Linked DNA regions of Homo sapiens: regions 2, 3, 4 and 5 are each linked to region 1. Evidence: fine-mapped expression QTL. A gene starts in region 1. Each other region holds a variant in brackets. All regions are shown on one strand. Distances are between the middles of the regions. Region 1 holds the start of NECAB2 (N-terminal EF-hand calcium binding protein 2). Region 2 overlaps NECAB2 (N-terminal EF-hand calcium binding protein 2). Region 3 overlaps SLC38A8 (solute carrier family 38 member 8). Region 4 has its middle 6.0 kb from the start of SLC38A8. Region 5 overlaps NECAB2 (N-terminal EF-hand calcium binding protein 2).

Evidence for each region. PIP is the estimated chance that this variant, and not a neighbour inherited with it, causes the effect.
Region 2: its variant is the best candidate, but not a certain one, in a credible set for the expression of NECAB2 in whole blood (INTERVAL, PIP 0.66).
Region 3: its variant is the best candidate, but not a certain one, in a credible set for the expression of NECAB2 in sigmoid colon (GTEx, PIP 0.56).
Region 4: its variant is the best candidate, but not a certain one, in a credible set for the expression of NECAB2 in left ventricle (GTEx, PIP 0.67).
Region 5: its variant is fine-mapped to the expression of NECAB2 in blood mononuclear cells (TOPMed, PIP above 0.99).

Annotation. Positions count from the first base shown.
Region 1 is chr16:83,966,524-83,970,644 of GRCh38, forward strand. It overlaps NECAB2 (N-terminal EF-hand calcium binding protein 2), which reads left to right and starts at 1,721. Exons shown (of 13, transcript NM_019065.3): 1 at 1,721-2,326. The coding sequence starts at 2,126. RefSeq lists a silencer at 1,597-1,786.
Region 2 is chr16:83,999,169-84,003,289 of GRCh38, forward strand. NECAB2 (N-terminal EF-hand calcium binding protein 2) reads left to right here. Exons shown (of 13, transcript NM_019065.3): 11 at 1,556-1,633; 12 at 2,657-2,748; 13 at 3,150-3,608. The coding sequence ends at 3,178. Among named protein-coding and RNA genes, the nearest start is that of NECAB2, 33 kb to the left of the region's middle. RefSeq lists an enhancer at 3,156-3,938. The variant G/T (reference allele first, on the strand shown) is at 1,727.
Region 3 is chr16:84,008,796-84,012,882 of GRCh38, forward strand. It overlaps SLC38A8 (solute carrier family 38 member 8), which reads right to left. Exons shown (of 11, transcript NM_001080442.3): 11 at 872-1,082. The coding sequence ends at 989. Among named protein-coding and RNA genes, the nearest start is that of SLC38A8, 32 kb to the right of the region's middle. The variant C/A (reference allele first, on the strand shown) is at 2,166.
Region 4 is chr16:84,046,774-84,050,894 of GRCh38, forward strand. No RefSeq gene overlaps it. Among named protein-coding and RNA genes, the nearest start is that of SLC38A8, 6.0 kb to the left of the region's middle. RefSeq lists an enhancer at 1,770-2,654. The variant T/C (reference allele first, on the strand shown) is at 1,850.
Region 5 is chr16:83,989,590-83,993,710 of GRCh38, forward strand. NECAB2 (N-terminal EF-hand calcium binding protein 2) reads left to right here. Exons shown (of 13, transcript NM_019065.3): 6 at 905-1,041. Among named protein-coding and RNA genes, the nearest start is that of NECAB2, 23 kb to the left of the region's middle. The variant TGGG/T (reference allele first, on the strand shown) is at 2,531.

The DNA.
Region 1 (4,121 bases):
GTACTAGAGTCTGGGGGTGGGAGTGGCGGGTGTGTGCAGGCAGTGATGTCCAGGAGGGCGCTGCAGCCCCGCCCCCTCCGCAGCCTGTCCCAGGCCTCCCTCCTCTCTGTTCTGCCATGCGGCCTCCTTTCAGTCCCTCCTGCTGGCCAGGTCTCTGCCTGCCCCAAGGCCTTTGCACAGAGAGTCCCCAGCCCAGGACAGTTTCCCGCCTTTCTTTAACTCCTTTTCCTTGGGATGTCTCAGCATAAGAATCACTTCCTCTAGGAAGCCTCTTCTGACACAAACCCCTCCACTGCCGTCACAGCAAATACTCCTTTCATGGTCTAAGGTGCTACCTTTTCATAGCAGTGCAGTTTTTTTTTCTTTTTTTTGAGACAGAGTCTCATTTTGTCACCCAGGCTGGAGTGCTGTGGCGCTTGGTTCACTACAACCTCTGCTTCTGGGTTGAAATGATTCTCCTGTCTCAGCCTCCCAAGTAGCTGGGATTACAGGTGACTGCCACCTCGCCCAGCTAGTTATTGTATTTTTAATAGAGACGGGGTTTCACCATGTTGGCCAGGCTGGTCTTGAACTCCTGACCTCAAGTGATCCGCCCTCTTTGGCTCCCCAAAGTGTTGGTATCACAGGCATGAGCCACCACACCCTTCCAGCAGTTCAGTTTTAATTGTTCATTTGTTTGTGGAATCATTTCAGTGTTTGGCTCTGCCCACTTGGATGTAAGCTCCAGGAGCTCTGGGAGACCAAGTACACCATCTGTTTTGCCCATTGCTGGAACTCCGTGGTTGGGCACCTGCCTGGCACCTAGTGGGTTCTCCTTAATTCATCTTTTAAATGGATGGGTGGATGGATGGATGGGAGGATGGGTGGGTGGGTGGACAGATGGATAGATGAGAGGATGGTTGGATGGATGGGAGGATGGTGGGTGGGTGGATGGATGGATGGATGGATGGGAGGGAGGGGGGTGGGTGGGTGGGTGGATGGATGGGAGGGAGGATGGATGGATGGATGGGAGGGAGGGAGGATAGATGGATGGATGGAAGGATGGTGGGTGGATGGATGGGAGGGTGTGTAGGTGGGTGGATGGATGGATGGATGAGAGGGTAGGGGGGTGGATAGATGGATAGATGGGAGGGTGGGTGGGTGGATGGACAGACAGATGGGCGGGCGGGCAGATGGATGGACGGATGGATGGATGGATGGATGGATGGATGGATGGATGGATGGGAGGGTGGATGGATGGATGGATGGAGGGTGGATGGATGGATGCCAGGGAGGGAGGATGAGTGGGTGGGTGAATGGATGGATGGATGGGAGGATGCTGGGTGGGTGGATGGATGGATGGATGAATGGTTGGGAGGGTGGGTGGATGGATGGACGGACAGTCGGCCGGCCGGATGGATGGATGGGAGGATGGGTGGATGGATGTATAGATGGATTGATGGACGGGTAGGCAGGTGGATGGATGGATGGATGGATGGACGGACAGGTGGGTGGGTGGATAGATGGATGGGTGGATGGAGTATGAAGGAAAGATGTTCTGGGGTGAAGACTGGTTCTGGGCGTTTTGTAACCAAGGGGGCGGCCTGAGGGGGCGTGCACGCCCGCGGGAGTTAAGGATGGGCGCCCGCGGGCGTGACGGGGCCGCGGGGCGTGGGCGCCGCTCCCCGGGGCTGGAGCCGGCAGAGGGCGCTCCGGGCTCGCTGGACACCCGCGCTTCGGCCTCTGCTGCGCGCCGCGAGTGGGAGGGGGGACTTTAGAAGCGGGGAGAGCAGGAGACTTTTGGGGAGCAGGCCCCAGGGGCGCCGCCCCGCCCCCAGGCCCCACATACCCCTCCCCTCCGGGTAGCCCCCTCTGTGGCTGCGCCCGCGCCCCTCGCCCCGGCGGGCAGTCCTCAGGCCCCGCGCCCGGCCGGCGGGGGTGGGGGCGGCGGGGAGCGGGCACGTGGCTCGGGGTCCGGCCGGCCCGCCCCCCGGCGCCGGCCAGTCCCCGCGGTGTCCGCGGCCGCGGGGGCAGCGGGAGAGAGGGCGGGGCGGCGCGGGCAGCGCGGGGAGGGGGTCGCGCGGGGGCGGGCCGCAGCTGGGCGGGGGTCGGCGGGCTTCCGGGCGGCGGCGGCGGGCGCGGCGCGATGTGCGAGCGGGCGGCGCGCCTGTGCAGGGCCGGCGCGCACAGGCTGCTCCGGGAGCCGCCGCAGCAGGGCCGGGCGCTGGGCGGGCTGCTGCGCTGGGTGGGCGCCAGGATGGGCGAGCCCCGGGAGTCGCTGGCCCCCGCCGCCCCCGCGGACCCCGGCCCAGCCTCGCCGCGCGGGGGCACCGCCGTCATCCTGGACGTGAGTACGCGCCGGCCGGGACCCCCGCCGTGGCCTCCGCTGGGACCCGGAGCCCCCTCCGCCCCTCGGGCGGACCCCGACGCCGCGACCCGCGAGGCCCTCCCTACCCGGGCAGGAGACCCCCGGCCCCTCCGCGTGCCGGAGCGGGAGCCCCCAGCCCCGCCACGTCCAGGCCGGTCTCCAGCCCAGTCCTCTCCCTGGACCGGGAGACCCCCCTCCTCCGCCCCTCCACCGGCGCTTCTCGGAGTCCCTGCCTGCCCACAGTGGGGAGCCGTGAGCCCCCGGACCCGGCCACTGTCCCCCTAGTTTTGTCCAAGCCAAACCCCCACCCTTTACCCCGCGGGACCGGAGCCCCTCGCCGCGTCCAGCCGCCTCCTCCTCTCCATCCCGGATCCTGTCCGGAGCGATACTTTTCTGAGACCCCTAACAACCCCTACCTCTAGCCCACCTCTCTTCGCCCTAGACCCTGAGCCCCCGTTCATCTCACGCTCAAAGACCCTTTGCCCCAGCTACTGCCACTTTAAAAGTGAAGCCCCCTCCCCACCTTCTGTCTTCTCGTCTCCTTTCCATTGAGCCAGAGCCATCGCCCATCAGCCCTGAGCTGGTACCCCTCTGGTCTTCCCCACCCCGCCCCCTTCCATTCCAAGTCCTCTGTTCCCTTCCCCACACCCCTCTACCCTACAGAGAGCTGGGTCCTCTTCATGGACCAGACTCACCCCTCACCCCTCCTAACTCCCCTGGGACCCAAATCACCCATCTCTGGGAAGCCCACCTCACCCTCCCACCCGCCCCACCCGGGAGGGAGGAATCTTCAGGGGGCGGCTCGGAGGAGGAGGACTTCTCCCAGCAGAGAGTGCTAGGAGGAGGTGGAGGAGGCTTCTGGGGATGTTGACTGCGTGTTTCAGCGAGGGTCCTGCTGGGGTGGGGCTGGGGGCTGCCTCTGCCTGTGTGGTGGATTTCTGGGAGAGTGGTGGGTGTGTGTGAATGTGCACACGCGTGTATCGCGGATCCCTGTGAGTCGGGGGATTCCCTCCCTTCCTCTCTCCTCTTCCCTGCTCCTGGAACCCTTGGCCGGGGTCTGGGCTGGGAGGGCCGGCCAGAGCAGGGGGAGCTCTAGAGTGCCACACTCGCAGGCACACATTCACACACTCACGCACTCGCTTACGCACGCACACACAGCCAGAGACACACCCATGCAGCCAAACCATCCCCTCCTCAGGACCCCCGCAGAGCTCCCACTGAAAGTCCTGGGCAGAGCCCTGCAGCCCCAAGCTGCCCTGCATGGAAGCCCTGCCCAGTCAGGGTGGGGGCTCTGAGGTTCCATCTCCTCACCTGCCAAAAGGAGTGATGAGCGGGGGGTGGGGCGGGAGGTGCTCATGCAGACTCCTGGAGCTGGCTGACATTACCAGGTGTCAGCCCTGCCATGTCACTCATGTGTTCAGCATTCCTGCCCAGAGCCGGCACCTACCTGGTGCCTGGCCTCAAGGGGGATCTGGGACACCCAGATAGGGACCCCAGTTTTGAGGAGCCTTGCCCAGTCAGGAACGGGGCTGCGGGGTGCCCAGGCTGGATCTTTGAGGAGGGCTTGGGGATCTGAGGTTCAGCCAGGAGGAGGGGTGATGTTTGAGAGGCCCTCCCATAGCTGTGCTTCAGTCTCACCGCCCAGGTGCCTAGAAATGACCAAGGGTGCCCCCTTTCTCGTTGCCTGGAGGGATGGGGGGCGAGGGCATCTGTCCTTTACCCCAAGGCGAGGACAGAGGGTGGAAGGGTCAGAGTGAGTATTACCTCCTCCTCC
Region 2 (4,121 bases), 33 kb after region 1:
GACCTGTAGCACGAGGGGAGGAGTAGCCTGGGCAGGAGTGCGGCCGTTCCCGAGACTCGGCGTGGCCACGAGGGGCCATTCTTGAGTAAGTAGCCAGGATGGGGGGGCAGGACCCACTCCACTCCAGGAGGACAGACTGCACAGGAGCAGGGGCCAGACTTGATCTTTTTCCATTACGTGAATAAGTGGGAGGCTCCAGGGTGAAGTAGGGCCACCCCGATGCGCTGTGGAGAGGAGGCACGGTGGACGTAGAGGCTCTGGTTTGTCGAGTTGGAGACGGCAAGCCTGGAGAGCCAGGTGAGATTCTACTTCCCAGGCATGGTGCACCTAAAGCTGCACGGAGGTGTGTCCACCCCAAGATGGAATCCAGCCCGGCCCCTTCCTCTAGGCTGAGCACTGTAGCCCCTCCTCCCCAGCTTTTGGCCCCCGCTTTATGGTCACTTGGGGCTTCCTCATTGTAGTGCACTTGCAGAGAGGATTCTGGGGCGGCATAGACTATCAGCACCTTTAAAATGACGTGAGTGCGGGCCCCTGGGTCCCATAGAGCAATGGGGGACTTGCCTGCAGCCCCTTCCTCTGTGGCCCAGCACCCCCTCCCCTCAGCCTCCTTTGGTCAGGTCAGGTACAGTGCAGTGGGGGTGTTGCAAGGATTAAATGAGAGGACAAGTAGAAGGAAGAAGAGGGAAGATGCTTTGATTTTTAAAGGTTTTTTGATTTTTAAAGGTTTTTTGAGACCAAATCTTGCTTTATTGTCCAGGCAGGAGTGAGTGTGTAGTAGTGGAAGCTCAGCTCACTGCAACCTCTCACCAGAGGGTTTAAATGAGTCTCATGCCTCAGTGTCCTGCATCGCTGGGATTACAGGGATGTGCCACCAGGCCCAGCAAGTTTTATTTTTTTTTTTTTTAAAGAGACAGTGTTTTGCCATGTTGGCTAGGCTGGTCTTGAACTCCTGACCTCACGTAATCCACCTGCCTCGACCCCTCAAGACTTCCCAAAGTTCTGCGATTACAGGCGTGAACCATCACATCCAGCCACCTGGTTTTGTTTAAATAAATGTTCACACTTTAACATGACATTTCAGCTGGGCACAGTGGCTGAAGTTTGCAATCCTGGCACTTTGGGAAGCCAAGGTGAGAAGACAGCCTGAGCCCAGGAGTTAAAGACCAGCATGGGGAACATAGCAAGACCCCATCTCTATTGGGACAGTTTTTGAATTAGGCCGAGTGGTGCACTCCTCTAGTCCCCGCTACTTGGAAGGCTGAAGTGATTGTGCCACTGCACTCCAGCCTGGGCAACAGAGTGAGACCCTATCTCAAAAGAAAAACTACACTGCATTGATTCTATTTAATAAATAGCTGTTGGCCACTATAAGAAGCCAGGCCTTATTCCCTGTGCTGGGGTCACCCTGTCGAGTCTCGATGGAGGTCAAGACAGGAAGAAACATTGAAGGCAGCCGTTGTGTATAGTGGTGGGTCTCAGGCCACCCCAGGGGAACAGCACTGAGGTGGCCTTGGTTGAGCTCCAGCCTCCTCCCCCCGACCATCTCCTGTTGCAGCATCACTGCCGTGAGGCTCTCAGATGGCTTCACCTTTGTCATCTATGAGTTCTGGGAGACAGAGGAGGCGTGGAAGAGGTGAGATGCTGGGTCCCCACAGCAGGTGAGGGAGACAGAGGGAAGTGGGGGGGCTGTCTTCCTGGAGCCAGGCATCCTTGGAGGGGAGGGTAA[G/T]GCCGAGTCCAGTCAGCAGATTCCCGAGGCATCTACCCGCTGGCATGCTTGCGTCAGTAAACCCTGGTGGAGGCAGGAGCTCTTGGTGGGTAGTGAGAGCCCCCACCACACTCAGCTGGGCTTTCCTGCTTTCCCCAGGGTTGCTTCTGTGCCCCTAGAGCACCTTGTCCTCCTGGAACAGCCCTGGGGGCCGAGGCACTGCCTTCTTTACCACCCTGTAGAGTTGAGGGCCTAACCTAGAAGGTGACTCAGTCCCCATGTGATCAATTGTTCCAGCGACTAACCTCCCCTCCAGCTGAGTGCCCGGTACGAGGGACGGAGATGGGGTAGGGTGTCAGCAGCTCTGATGGGCCTTAGGCCTTTGTCCTCTGCTCAGCACACATCTGGGAGAGGGTGGAGACTATTGCTGATGCGCCAGACCCCACAGGCAGGAAGCGGGGCCTAGGGGTAGCCCATGCCCCCATCTCCTGCTTCCCTGGTAAACACTCACGGTTTGCTGACAAACTCAGGACCCCAGTGGGAACAGGGGCGGTCATGAGAAGTGAGAGTGTCCCCTCCCTGTCCGTACTTCAGTGACTCATAAAACGAGGGACTAAAAGCCTTCGCAGCTTCTGTGTTGTCATGGGTCCCAGGCAGAGGATGGCCCCACTCCTCCTGCTAGGGTAAAGGGGGAGGTAGAGGCTCTGTGCAATGAGTGGGGGGATCCCGCTGCCCATTTATAGCTCACAGGGAAAAAGAGAAGCTCACTGCCCACCCCAGAGTCAGCCTCCCTGGGCACCCCCTCACCTTCCCACAAAGGCTCTGAGTCCAAAGACCCCCCGTGCTTATTGATAAGCTCCCCATTTTGGGCTAGAGCTAGGATTAACAGGGGAGCCACACGCGGAGCTCCACTCCTGCCACCCCTGACTCACACATGTCCCTGCGTCACAGGCACCTGCAGAGCCCCCTGTGTAAGGCGTTCCGGCACGTCAAGGTGGACACACTGAGCCAGCCTGAGGCCCTCTCCAGGATCTTGGTGCCAGGTAGGGGGCAAAGGCCTGGAACTGCAGTGGCCACCTGACTGGAGAGAAGGGCAAGAGCCTAGAGGCTGCCCCATATCTCCCGGGGACTTGCCTGCTTGCTGTGGGCCCACTGTCAGCTCCTGCCACCAATGCCAGGCTCAGAGCCAGCCCTGAGGTGGCCCCACATACAGGTATGCCTGCCAGAGCTTGCACCAGAGCACCCCCTCCACGGCCCCCTACTTCCAGCCAGACTGAATTTCCCTTCCCAGGTGTGTGGTTTGCACCTGGGTGACCAGCAAGGACCTGTGTGTCACACAAGGACTCAAAGCCATCCCCCGACCTGTCATTCAAGACGACCACCACCAGCTACGAGGCTGCCCACATTCGCACTCCTTCCCTCTAACGTGTCTCTCTCCTTTTAGCTGCTTGGTGCACGGTGGGACGGGACTGACAGCCTCCCAGAGGCCCGTGGAGGAGCCCACCAGCCCCTTCTTCTTGTGAAGGAAATCCCGTTTTTTTCTAGACAGACACTTTGGTGCAGAAGCTTCTTTTCAATCCATCCTCCACAAGAAGGTGTTTCCCTGTTGTTAAGTGAAGGAGGCCGCCCCTGCCCCCACCTGAGAAGGCAGAGCAGTGTCTGTGCTGCCAGGTCCTGGTGAAGCCCAAGGTTGAAGGGGGCGGCTTCCTGGAGCCAGCACCCCTGCCTCCTGGTCCTGGCCTCTCCCCTACCCCTCACATGGCCACGCATGACCCACACTGACCACACCCTGCCCTCTTCGGTGACATTCTTCTACCTAGTAGGAGTCATGCCCCTGTAGTGCCCAACCTAGCCAGGTAGCCACCACTGTGCCCAGGCGCCAAATAAACCCTGGTTGGGAAGAGCTGTGTGCTCTGTGTCTGTTTCCTGGTTGACAACAGCAGGGGGCCAGGGACCCTTCAAGTGCTCCCAGCCTCAGTTTTCTGAACCATGAAATGGTGGTGGTCACTCTATGCGGTATTTGGGAACTAGGCTCATGCCTATTCAGGAGCTCAGCACCACACCTACCCTCAGGTCAGTAATTCAAAGGACTGGGCACAACTGTCAAAGTCACGGTCAAGGTAGGTAGATGACAGACAGACAGACAAAATCCAGCAAAGAAAGAGGCTCCCGGAGTGGGGGGCCAGGCACGGGGCTACCAGTAAAGGCCCATAGCACTGAACCCTCCCAGCTTCAATGCTGATAGAGCATCACCAATCAGGGATGCAGTCCTGAGTCTTACTGGGGTTCGGTGACGCATACACGCTGACACCTCATGGCTCAACACCCCACCATAAATCACATGGTTGGCCCAGACCACGCAGTGTGGCTCAACACAGACACTGTCACCAGGCAGGACGCTCCAGGGACGGGTGAA
Region 3 (4,087 bases), 42 kb after region 1:
GAGCCAACAGTCCACTTGGCTTCCAGGCTCTTTGAGTCCAGCTGGTGGGAGGGAAAGCACAGTTTCCTTGGAGTCATCCACCCTCCACGGGGCATGGGCCAAGTGCATGGCGGTGTGGCGTGTTCCGGGCATACACCTCCTTGGGCCTGTCACAGCCAAGGGCAGGATTCGGGCATTTCCTGCGCCCTGGCCAAAGGACCATTTGAGTCCATCACCATCGCCAGCCATGCCTCCTCCCACTCCCTTCTGGGCTTCCCATTGCTGTGCAGTATCCTTACCTGACACCCTTGATCCTGACACTCCAAAGCCAATTATCTGGGCCTCAGCCCCTAGCTCCCTTTTATGGATTGAATCTTGTCTCCCAGAAACATCAGTTGAGGTTGAACCCCCGGAACCTGTGAACATAACCTTATTTGGAAATTGCATCTTTGTGGGTCCTAATTAATACAAGATGCAGGCAACTTATGATGAGATCACACTACTTACGGAGGTGGGAGGAGCTCACTTAGTGATGGGTATCTTTTTAAGAGAGAGATTTGGACACAGAGGATACACAGGGGAGAGTCACATGAAGACAAGAGCAGACACTGGAGTGAGGCAGCCACAAGCCAAGGAGTGCCGGCCACCCCTAGAACTGGGAAGACAGGAGGGAGCCTCCCCTAGAGCCCACAGAGGGAGCATGGCCCTAATGACACGTGATTTCAGACTCCTGGCCTCCAGAACTGTGATGCAACAAGCATCTGTTGTTTTAAGCCACCAGAGTGCGGTTATGGTCATTTATCACAGCGGCCATAAGAACTTTCCTCACCTTTGTACCAGAAACCCTTCGAACCCGCATAGCCCCATGAGCAGCCCAAGGAGGCAGAAGGCATCAGTCTCTCCAGCATCTTTATGAGGAAAAGAAATGGCATCGGTCTCCTGGCTGCATACAGCAGCCACGTAGGGTCAGCCCCCGGAGGGCCCCTTCCTGCCCGGCACTAGCTGCCCATCAGAACATCTCCCAGACCGCTGCCGCCGTGCTCTGCCCAAAGATGAAGGTGCCGACCAGCACAGAGACCACTCCCCAGACCTCCAGGCAGCACCTGCCAAGTGAATAAACCCATGTCAGAGCTTTTCTGGATTTTTGCACAAATAAGCCACACACACATAAAAAATTCACTATGTAGAGCCCAGTATGGAGTCATCAATTTGGAAAAAAGAAAAATTCAGAATATTTCCAGTTACCTGTAGGGATGGGTTTCCAAGACAATGGGAAGCAAAGTACCCAGGCAATTTTTTTTTTTTTTTTTTTTTGAGGTGGAGTCTCATTCTGTTGCCTAGGCTGGAGTGCAGTGGCACGATCTCGGCTCACTGCAGCCTCCACCTCCCGGGTTCAAGCAATTCTCCTGCCTCAGCCTCCCAAGTAACTGGGACTACAGACACACACGATGACACGAGGCCAATTTTTGTATTTTTAGTAGAGATGGAGTTTCATCATGTTTGCTAGGCTGGTCTTGAACTCCTGACCTCAAGTGATTCGCCCTCCTCAGCTTCCTAAAGTACTGGGATTACAAGCGCAAGCCACCGTTGCTGGCCGCAAGCAGTTTTTAAAAGCCCTCCGATCCCACCTGTTATGTCATAAGCTCATTCCTCCCCAGTATTTTATCAAATAAAAAGACATGGGGGCCAGGCATGGTGGCACAAGCCTATAATCCCAGCACTTTGGGAGGCTGAGGCAGGCGGATTCACCTGAGGTCATGAATTCAAGACCAGCCTGGCCAACATGGTGAAACCCCATCTCTACTAAAAATAAAAATAAAAAATTAGCCAGGCACGGTGGCAGGCACCTGTATTCCCAGCTATGTGGGAGGCTGAGGCAGAATTGCTTGAACCCGGGAGGCAGAGGTCGCAGTGAGCCAAGATTGCACCACTGCACTCCAGCCTGGAGGACAGAGCAAGACTCCATCTCAAAAAGAGAAAAAGACATGGAGAGAAGGGAGACACTACTTTGAAAAGTCCCCCCACCCTCCCTTTCTGTTCCTCAGCCTCTGATGAAATCCCATGAAAATGAAGGAGAAGACGCAAGCTCTAAGTCACACACGATCTCAGAGGGGTAGGGGACGAGGACGCAGGAGGCAGAGGTGGCTGGGACTGGCAGCCACCGAGGCCACATTTGTGAGCTTCGT[C/A]ATGTAACCAGAGATGGGGTAGACAAGGAGGTCAGAGCGATAACAAGATTCCCACAAAATGGCAGGGCCACCAGAGATATTTGTGGCCCCATTAACAAAGACCAGAAGGCCGGGTTGTCATGGAAGGAACATTTCTAACCGAGCAGCATCTCAGCACGGCTGTTCAGCGCCATAAACATCCATTCATCTGTGCGGGGACTGTGAGGCTAATGTGCCTGTGGGCTGTGGCACTCCTGGAGCAGCGCTGATGTATTAGAAGGACCCAAAGCAGTTTTAACGATAAAAATATCTTGAAAGCTCATCAGTAAAAACTGTTGTGAGCTCAGATCAAGGAACAAAACAAAAAGCATGAAGACTCCGAAAAGCATCCCAGGGAATGAGCGGCTTAGGGGGTTACCAGACATTGGGAGGCTGGTTCAATACCCAAGGCAGGTTTAGAAACATCCAGAAACACTGCTCTCAAATCCAGAAGAAACCGGGCCAGGCCTGCTCCTTTGCAAAAACCAAGCTTGGGCTCAATGGGGCTAGAGGGCCGGGGGTATAGGGGAACAGACCTACAGCTGGCACCCAAATTCACGATTGCTGCCATTTAACATTATCTGGGATGGGGTGAAGGGTGGCCCCCAAAATTCATGTCTACCTGGAACCTGTGCTTGCCAGCTTATCTGGAAACTGGGTTTTGCAGATGTAATTAAGGAAAAGATCTTGAGAGAAGATACAACCTAGATTTAGGGTGGACCCTAATCTGATGGTAGGTATCCTTATAAAAGAAAGGCAGCCAGGTGTGATGGTGGGCGTCTGTGGTCCCAGCTACTCAGGAGGCTGAGGCAGGAGGATTGCTTGAGCCCAGGGGGTTGAGGCTGTAGTGAGCCACAATTACGCCACTGCACTCCAGCCGGAGCAACAGAGCAAGACTCTGTCTCAAAAACTAAAATAAATAAAAGCAGAGGGATTTCTGAGACGCAGAGACACAGGGAGAAAGCTAAATAATGATAAAGGCAGAGACTGGAGTGATGTAGCCACAGGCCAAGGAGCACCTGGGGCCACCAGAAGCTGAGGCGCCTTCAGAGAGTCCAGCCCTGCCAACACCTTGATTTCACACTCCTGGCTCCAGAACTGGGGAAAAAATTCATTTCTGTTGCTTTAAGCCTCCCCACCATGCCCCAATTTATGGTAATTTGTTACAATAACCCCATAAAACTAATACATCATCTCTTTACCTGCCTCAGCCTCAGTTTCCCCATCTATGGGATGGGAGGGAGTCACCCAGAACCCCAGACTACCCAGGGGCGGCTGAGGAAGCGCACATCATTCACGTGTACATCGTCCTCTTCCGTGGGTCAGACTCAGCTGCTCAGTGGCAAAGTACAGAGGCTCAGTCGTGTCTGATCCACAGGTCCGCTCGGGGATAAATATTTGTCAAATGAAGGAAAGATCCAAATTATCTGGTCTCAACAGCATTGTATGCCAGGCAGGTGGGTTAGCATGGGGCCTGGGAGCCAGGGGCCTGGGTTGCATCCTAGCTCTGTCCTCACTAGCATCCGGGCCCGCCTCCTCAGCTGTAGGATGAAGACATGTGGGTATGGTGGGGAGGTGAACATGTAAAAGGACCTAGCTCAGTGCCTAGCAGAGGAGCCTGGGAACAGCGACCCACTGCTGTGATGATGGTGTCTGGCCGGCCATGGGGCCTTTCTAACCCAGCCTGCACCCTGATCCTGCCCTGGGTCCGAGCCAGGTAACAAAGGAGGGTACAGATGCACCACTGGGTGCTTCCAGAGGCTGGAATCTACATGAAATCCCAACCACAGACCCTCAGAGTGGAAGGGAAGGCCCTTGGAGGACCCGGTGTTACTGGCCCGGGCTCCTATCCTGGCTCAGATGCCCTCATACTGGGTAGACAGAGACTCTCTTCCTGTGGCTCG
Region 4 (4,121 bases), 80 kb after region 1:
TGGTCTCCAACTCCAGACCTCAGGTGATCTGCCCGCCTCGGCCTCCCAAAGTGCTGGGATTATGGGCAGTCAGAATTTCTACGAAGCTCCCCCAGGAGGGTCTACCGTGCTGTGAGAGTAGAGCACCCAGTTCTTAGGGCCTCCCGCTGACCCTGCTGTCCCCGAGACTGAAGCCCCTCCTTTCTCCGAAGCTCTCAGCCCTAGGCCTGGCCCACGAAGGCTGCTTAGTAAGCAGCGCAGCAAGCCCAGTGTGTCGGAGCAGAGCCGGCCTCCAGCTTCTCAGATGGTGGGAGGGGCCCCACCTGCAGAAATTACCAGGGACCAAAAGTCCTCGGATGGGAGACGGATGTCATAGGGATAGAGAAACTGCTTGTGGTCGGTGAAATGATGGCCTCAAAGATGTCCTCATCGGAACCTCCAGGCCTTGTATGTTACCCCACATGGCAAAAGGGGCTTCACAGATGAGATCGGGGACCTTGTGGGGAGGGGACCCTGAGCTATCCAGGTGTGCTCTATATGTAATCAGTGTCCTTCTAACACGGATGCAGGAGGGGCCAGAGGTCAGAGAGGAGACAGTGGTGTGGAGACAGCAGCAGAGGCTAGAAGGGTGTGCGTGGAACACGGAGGAGGGGCCACCGGATGCTGGGAAAGGCAGGGAAATGGGTTCTCACCCAGGGCTTCAGGAAGGAACCAGCCCTGCCAACACCTTGATTTTAGGCCAGTGAGCCTGAACTTGCACTTCCAACCTCTGGAACCGCAATATATGTTTTAAGCCACTAAATTTGTGGTAGTTTGTCCAGGTGGCAATAGGACCCACATACACCAGCATCCTGAATTCCGATCCTTGGGCAGTTCTGAGAGGACAGGCTGGTGGGCTCCCCCTGGGCTCAGCAGCAGAGGCTGGATCCCTCAGGAACACAGCCACAGGGCACAGGCCTTGTCACATCCCGCGGTCCCCGCCTGGGGGCTGCTTCTCCAGAGCTGTAGTCAGAAGACCTGCTCTGGGTAAAGCAGTAAAGGGGTGAACTGTGGGAGGGAAAGGAAGCATCCTTTAGGCTCACTCTCCTCCTGCCACTGTGTCCAATGGAGGAAACACTGGGGGTGCTGCGGGGGGTGGTCAGCAGCCAACACAGGGCTGGGGGCAGAGGGCAGGGAGGAGGACGTGGTGCCAGGGCTGAGCCCACAGGGTCTTCATCCAGGGGGTTCTGACCACTTGGGTTCACACTGACACTGGGAGTCGGAAGGGCACAAGAACCTCTCCCAGGTTCTAAGCCAGGGCTCCCAAGGGGGCCGCCTGTTGACAAGAATCTCCTGTGGAGGGAGCGTGTTAAGAGTTAACATGACATAAAATTCACTTTTTTTAAACTCCATTCTGGGGCTTACCATTTTAAAGTGTGCAATCCAGTGGCTTTAAGTACTCACAATGTTGTGCCAGTATCACCACTATCTAATTCCAGAACATTTTCAACAGCCCCAAAGGAAGATCCCTTCCCCTAGCTCCTGGCAACCACGAATCGACTCCCTGTTTTTGTGAACTTTGTTTACTGTGGAGACTTCATCACACATGACATGGCCTTTTGTGTCTGGCTTCTTTTACTCAGCATGTTCCTGGGGTTCCCCAACTTGGGAGCATGTGTGAGAACTTCGTTTCTTTTTGTGGCCGTGTTCAATGGCATGGAGAGGCCACCTTTGTCCATGTGGCCATCACTGCTAGACCTGTGGGCCGGCCCCGCCTTCTGGCTACTGTGAATAGTGCAGGTGTGAACTTCACAGAGGTTTTTGTTTGAACACCTTGTTTTCAGTTCTCTTGCGTATAGGCTTAGGGACTGCTGGGTCACAGTTCCAGCAG[T/C]TGTTTGCTCTTGGGAGCTTTTAAAAGAGATTCCTAGTCCCTTCCCAAGGAACAGATGATCTAGTCAAGCTGGGGTGAGGCCAGGGATCTGTATTTCTAGGACACTCACCTGCAATGCCTTCTTGTTACCAGCAAATGAAACCATTATTCCGTGAGTTAATATCCAATTAAGGCGGTGGTGCCAGCCACTTTTTTAATGAAGAATTTCAATATTTCTCTAGAAATGTCTATCTAACCTGTATATAAAATGGGAGACAACCCTTTTGCATATCCTTGACTCTATATTTTGTGTCCTGTGAAATCAAAATCTATGTCAACCCTCCCATTATTTCCAGTAGGCAGCACCCTCCGCCCGCCGTGGGAGGCAGGCAGCCTGGCGGTGAGGGCTTCAGAGCTCAGGCCCAGGCCAGACCTGGGTTTTCGCCTGAGAAATGGCTCCGAGAGCCCTGGGCGGGATCATGCCCATGAACCATTGGCCTGAGGCACAGAGACGACCGCTCAGCAGGTCCCAGGACCATCGCTGTGGGCCAGGCTCACCTACTGTGCGTGGCTTTCCTGGGAGGTCTCCTTGGAGCCATCATATGTGGGGCACGCTCTGCACGGAACAGACAAGTGTGTGTGCAAAGAAAGATCTAGACTTGAGTGTCCTATACAGGGGAGGGGGCCAAAGGGGGAGTCACTATTTGTATCTCATCTCAAAGGCTCCTGCAATCGGGGCCACTGCCTGAGTCTCTAGAGAGAGCCAGGGCAAAGGATGACATCTGGCCCCTCTCACGGTCCCCAGGCCCCCTGTGAACCCCAGGTGTTATCTGTGGTTGTGGCTGGTTGGTCTTTTTTTTGTTTTTTGTTATTTTTTTGTAGAGACAGAGTCTTGCTTACTTTGGCCAGGCTGGCCTCAAGTGATCCTCCTGCTTCGGCCAGCCAGTCTTGGGATTTCAGGCAGAGCCACTGCCAGCTGGCCTTTTCTGGCTTGTTAAAAAGATGTAGCTGTTCACTAGGACAATGAGAGCCTATGCCAGGGGCAAAAAGGAATCCTTTCGAAGGGGGGTTTGGCCCAGCCCAGGACCACGAGTGGGCCTAGGTGACAGAACGTGGCCTCAACCTCCAGGCACGTGTGTCCCTGTAATGGCTGACACCGGCGCTGGCTGTCAGGCACATGGCTAAGCACATGGCCTGGGTGACACCATGTACCAAACACACAGCAGTCGGTGGAGTGAAGGCCCCTGGCTAGGGCCCACAGCAGGAGTGGCCGGGCTGAACTGGACCCAGGCAGCTTGAGTCTAGGGCCAGGGCCACGACATCCTCTCCAGGACCTCCAAGGCAGACCCCGGAATCCCACGGCTGCCACCCAGCAAAGGGGGCGTCCCTCCAGGGCCTCTTCTGTTGGGTGGCACATCTGAATGCCAGACTCAGCCATCTCAGCAGACCACATGGATCCGGTTCCTCCCGGAGACCTAATCCCCTTTCTACATAAACTCTCCACCAGGGCGTTCTCTCTCCAGGCTCACCCTCACCTGCTCCTTCACTCAATCCTCCCAGACTCTGTCCCAAGGCCCCCCAGCATCTGGGTATCCTCCTGGTGTGTCACTGTCCCTTTAGAGAGAGACAGACAGACATGGGACATCACACAGACACCAGCAGGAGAGAACAAGGGTTAAGTACACAGGTTTTGGGACTGAGGGCAACATGAGTTCAAATTCTGCCTTGGCTACTAGTTGTATGACTGGGCAAGGGGACGAGTGATTCCCGGGCTTCTGTTTCACCTGTGTGATGGGCCCAGTGATGCCCACCTTACAGTGTGTGGGGAATGAAACAAAAACACATGTTGTAACTAGCACAGCGTGCCTGGGCACACAGTTCCTCATGACATCATTCCGGCAACTGGACAGAAAGGGTCCTCGCCTTCTGGTTTGAGGCAAAACCTTTAACATAACCCTGTCCTTTATGGTCCTGACCACCAGACGGTGAGTGGCCTGCACCTGTAGAGACCTGTGAGACGAGAGGCTCCAGAGCCAACAGCATGCAAGGCCCGCATGTGGGTAAGGAGAGCTGCAAGGCCGCATGTGGGTAAGGAGAGCTGCAAGGCCCCATGTGGGTAAGGAGAGCTGCAAGGCCCGCATGTGCGTAAGGACAGCTGCAAGACCCCCATGTGGGTAAGGAGAGCGGCAAGGCCCCATGTGGGTAAGGAGAGCAGCAAGGCCCGCATGTGGGTAAGGAGAGCTGCAAGGCCGCATGTGGGTAAGGAGAGCTGCAAGGCCGCATGTGGGTAAGG
Region 5 (4,121 bases), 23 kb after region 1:
GGAGAGCAGGGCAGGGTTTGGGAGACCCAAGATCCCCCAACACAGCATCATTTTCATCATCCCGTCCTTGAGCGACGTGGGTAAGCAGAGCTTTCTCCCTTCTGCTGTAAAGTCTTTGCAGCCCAAAGCATCTCCACTGGATCCAAAAGCCTTGAGAAATGTCCTTGCAGAATCTCAGGACAGAGGTGGAAATTCTGTTCCACACCACAGAGCAAAACTTGGAAAAAACTTTCTTTTTCGTCTTTTCCCCAGAGTTCCGCTAAGACTCCCTCTCTGATTTCCCCCCAGGCTCCTCTCTGGCCACCTCCTTTTGATTACTAAGCCCCGGGCACTTTCCTCCCTTCAGCTGCTTTTGATTCCGTTTTGTCATTTTCCTTAGTAGCAGCCTGGAGATCCAGGAGCCCTAGGAATCCTCCTTGCAGGAGGAAGGAGGGAGGGAAGGTCGTGGATTCTTCTTGCCTGATCATTATCCTTGTCACAGCAACAACAAAACTACCAGTCACTATCACTGCCACCATCACCGTCATCTATATTGTAGCACCTACTGTTGATTGAGTCTTTGCTGTGTGGCAGGCCCTGTGCAGAGCATTGTACACGCATGTTGCTGTTTAATCTTCGCTACAACCTTGTAAGATAGATGCTTCAGTGACCCCATTATACTCTGGGAGGTCACAGAGCTAGTAAGTGGTGAAGCCAGGGTTCAAATTTGGTCTCTAAACCTCTAGCCTCTGCGTTGGAAATGCTACAGCCTCTAAGACTGGACCCCAGGAGGCCGTGGGGTCCTCCCTTCCCTTTGCAAAGCAAATTCACCAGCACCAGCTTTCCCCCAACTCCTGTGCTAGACCCCACCTCCAATTTCCCTCCCACCCCTTTCCCCTCAGTGCCTCTTCTCTTCCTTCCACAGGTATATGAGGGTGGGAGCAACGTGGACCAGTTTGTGACCCGCTTCCTCCTGAAGGAGACGGCCAATCAGATCCAGTCGCTGCTGAGCTCAGTGGAGAGTGCGGTGGAGGCCATCGAGGAACAGACCAGCCAGCTCCGGTGAGTCTCTGAGACCCTGCAGGGTCCCATGGGGGTATGCCGTGCACGCGCACGTGCCCACCTGCTGCTTGGTGGGGATGTCTGTGTACCTAAGAGCTGGGTGACCTTGGGCAAGTTGCCACAGCTCTTTGTGCCTTTGGTGCTCCATTATGTAATATAGGCACAATTATATACCTAAAATCTCAGCCATTGCAAGGATTGAATGAGATAGTAAATGCTCAGGAGAATGCCTGGTGTACATATTTATTAATACAGTGAAGACACCATTTCCCAGACTCTAATTTGTTTTGCTGCATCCACATGCTAATTGTTTATGCAGAACTATTCTGTTGTTTGGCCCACGTTTTATTTATTTATTTATTTTTTTGTTTTAGACAAAAAGTGTCGCTCTGTCGCCCAGGAGTGCAGTGGCGTGATTTTGGCTCACTACAACCTCTCCCTCCCTGGGTTCAAGCAATTCTCATGCCTCAGCCTCCTGAGTGGCTGGGACTGCAGGTGTGTAACACCATGCCTGGCTGATTTTTGTATTTTTAGTAGAGACGGGGTTTTGTCATGTTGGCCAGGCTGGTCTTGAACTCCTGGCCTCACGTGATCCACCTGCCTTAGCCTCCCAAAGTGCTGGGATGAAAGGTGTGAGCCACCACAGCTAGCCTATTTTCTCTTTCTCTCTCTCTCTTTCTTTCTCTCTTTCTCTCATTCGTTCTTTTTTCTTTTTCTATTTCCTTTTCTTTTCTTTTCTTTTTTTTTTTTTTTTGAGATCGAGTCTTGCTCTGTCACCCAGGCTGGAGTGCAGTGGCGAGATCTCAGCTCACTGCAACGTCCGCCTCCCAGGTTCAAGCGATTCTCCTGCCTCAGCCTCCCTAGTAGCTGGGATTACAGATGCCCACCAGCACACCCAGCTAATTTTTGTATTTTTAGTAGAGATGGGGTTTCACCATGTTGGCCAGGCTGGTCTTTAGGGTGATCCACCCGCCTCAGCCTCCAGGTGCTGGGATTGCAGGCTTGAGCCATGGAGCCCGGCCTTATTTTATTTATTGACACAGAATCTTGCTGTGTCCCCCAGGCTGGAGTACAGTGGCACCATTGTGGCTCACTGCAATCTCCAACTCAGGTTCAAGCAATTCTCCCACCTCAGCCTCCCAAGGAGCTGGGACTACAGGCATGTAGTCCCACCCACACCCAGCTATTTTTTTTTTTTTTTTTTTTGTAGAGACGGGGTCTCGCCATGTTGGCCAGGCTGTTCTCAAACTCCTGGTCTCAGCAATCCTGCTGTCTCAGTCTTCCAAAGGGCTGGGATTACAGGCAGGAGCCACCACACCCCAGCCCACTTTTGAAAATTAGAAAGCAGTTTAGGAAATGGCATATGGTTATAACTGCACTCTCGGCATCACATGCCGTAAGTGAAGTAACTGTAAAAATAAGCACCTGTCATTGTTTACGATCCAGCTTGAATCCTGAGGCTTGCCACCTCTCTGTTAAAAAGAGAGAC[TGGG/T]GGGAAATCAGAGAGGTGTTGAAGACAGTAGTAGCAAGTTGAGAGTTTCTCAGGAGGACTGAAAGAGACGTGAAAGAGGAGTGTTTCTTTCTGGTCTTGTGTTAGGCCTTGTTTGTGTGCTTGGAACCATGGGAATGCATCTGGGGTCCCATCCTAGGTGGTGGCTGCTGTGTTAGGGGTGTGACCTGGTATTTAGAGAGGAGCGACATTCTCGTGGCTCAGCAGTCCCATCTCCCGGGGAACACGAGCACCCGTCCCCCCGCCCACCTCCATTTGCTGTTTCAAATTGAGAAAAACCCTTCTTTGCTCAGTTCTTCCCAGAACAGCTGATGTGCTTGACACAGAAGAAAAAGAGAAAATGCAAACAGATGAGGGAAACAGCCAGGTGTCGGCACCCAAGCTCGATTGAGCCCTTAATTTTCCAGGCAGAGAGGTACCTCAGGACCAGGATATTGGTTTGCTGGGGGACTGGGGTTTGATCGTGTGTTTCTTCGTAGTTGAAGAGCTGGTCCTGATCAGACATGATTGTGAAGGTAACTCTGAGACACTGTTTCCCAAATGAGTTTGATCTGAGCATTTGCGCTGAATCACCTGGGAAAATTAAAATACACATTCCTGGGCTCCTGGCCATACTCACTGGCTAGAATCCCTGGACTGGAGCCCAGAACTCTGCACATGTGGTCAGTCTTGTGATTCTTGGGTGCCCCAGAATTAGCAGCCATCGCTGTGAAAAAAGCTGACACTTAGATTTCCTGGGTTTTCCTGTTACTATCTTGATGAAAAACTTGCTGTTTTTCTCCTGCCGCAGAACAGATAGTATGGCTGCGCAGTTTTCAGGGCAGACTTCCCACACTGGGTCAGCTCCATCACGCGTCAGCAGTTACACCCACCTGCCCCCATGGTGGGGACCTTACTTGGGGATGTTGTCAGACGGGGCAGCTTGTCGTGATACCTCTGTTCCACACATGCCCCTCCCTCGAACTTCCCCAAATCTCAGCTAGTTTGGCTCTAGGCTGTGGGTCCCTGAGGACTATCCTGTTTCCCAGCCCCAGGACAGTCTCCCAGGATGTCACCTCTAGCACAGGCTACTGGCTCAGACCCCACCACCCGGGAGCCCTGAGCAACCCGTCATGGTCTGAGGGATACATTTAATTTCCTGCTGGTTTATAGAGAAGCCATGATTGACACCATAAAGACTCTGCCAGCCTCTCCCCTCCCAAGGCGGGAGTCGAGTTTGCTCCCTCCGCAAGGGGGAGAGCCTGGCGGAGTGTTCAAGGTTCACAAGAGACAAATTCCAGAATGCACCAAGACCGCGATGCACAGAGACCAAGCGGGTGTTGGGGCCGTGCACAGGGCACTCTGTGTGTCTTCTGGGGGAGTGTCTGTGTTTCTGTATGTCTGCCAGGAGCTTTTCAGCATCCTTTTGCATGGGAGGATTTGGTCATTCATTGAGCATTTTTGAGTCCCTACTATGTGCTGGACACAGTGCAAGGTGAGCTGTGTGTGTGTGTGTGTGTGTGTGTGTGTGTGTGTGTGTGTGTGTGTGTCTGCCTCTGCCTGTGGCTAGCTGTGCCTGTCAGGGCACGCA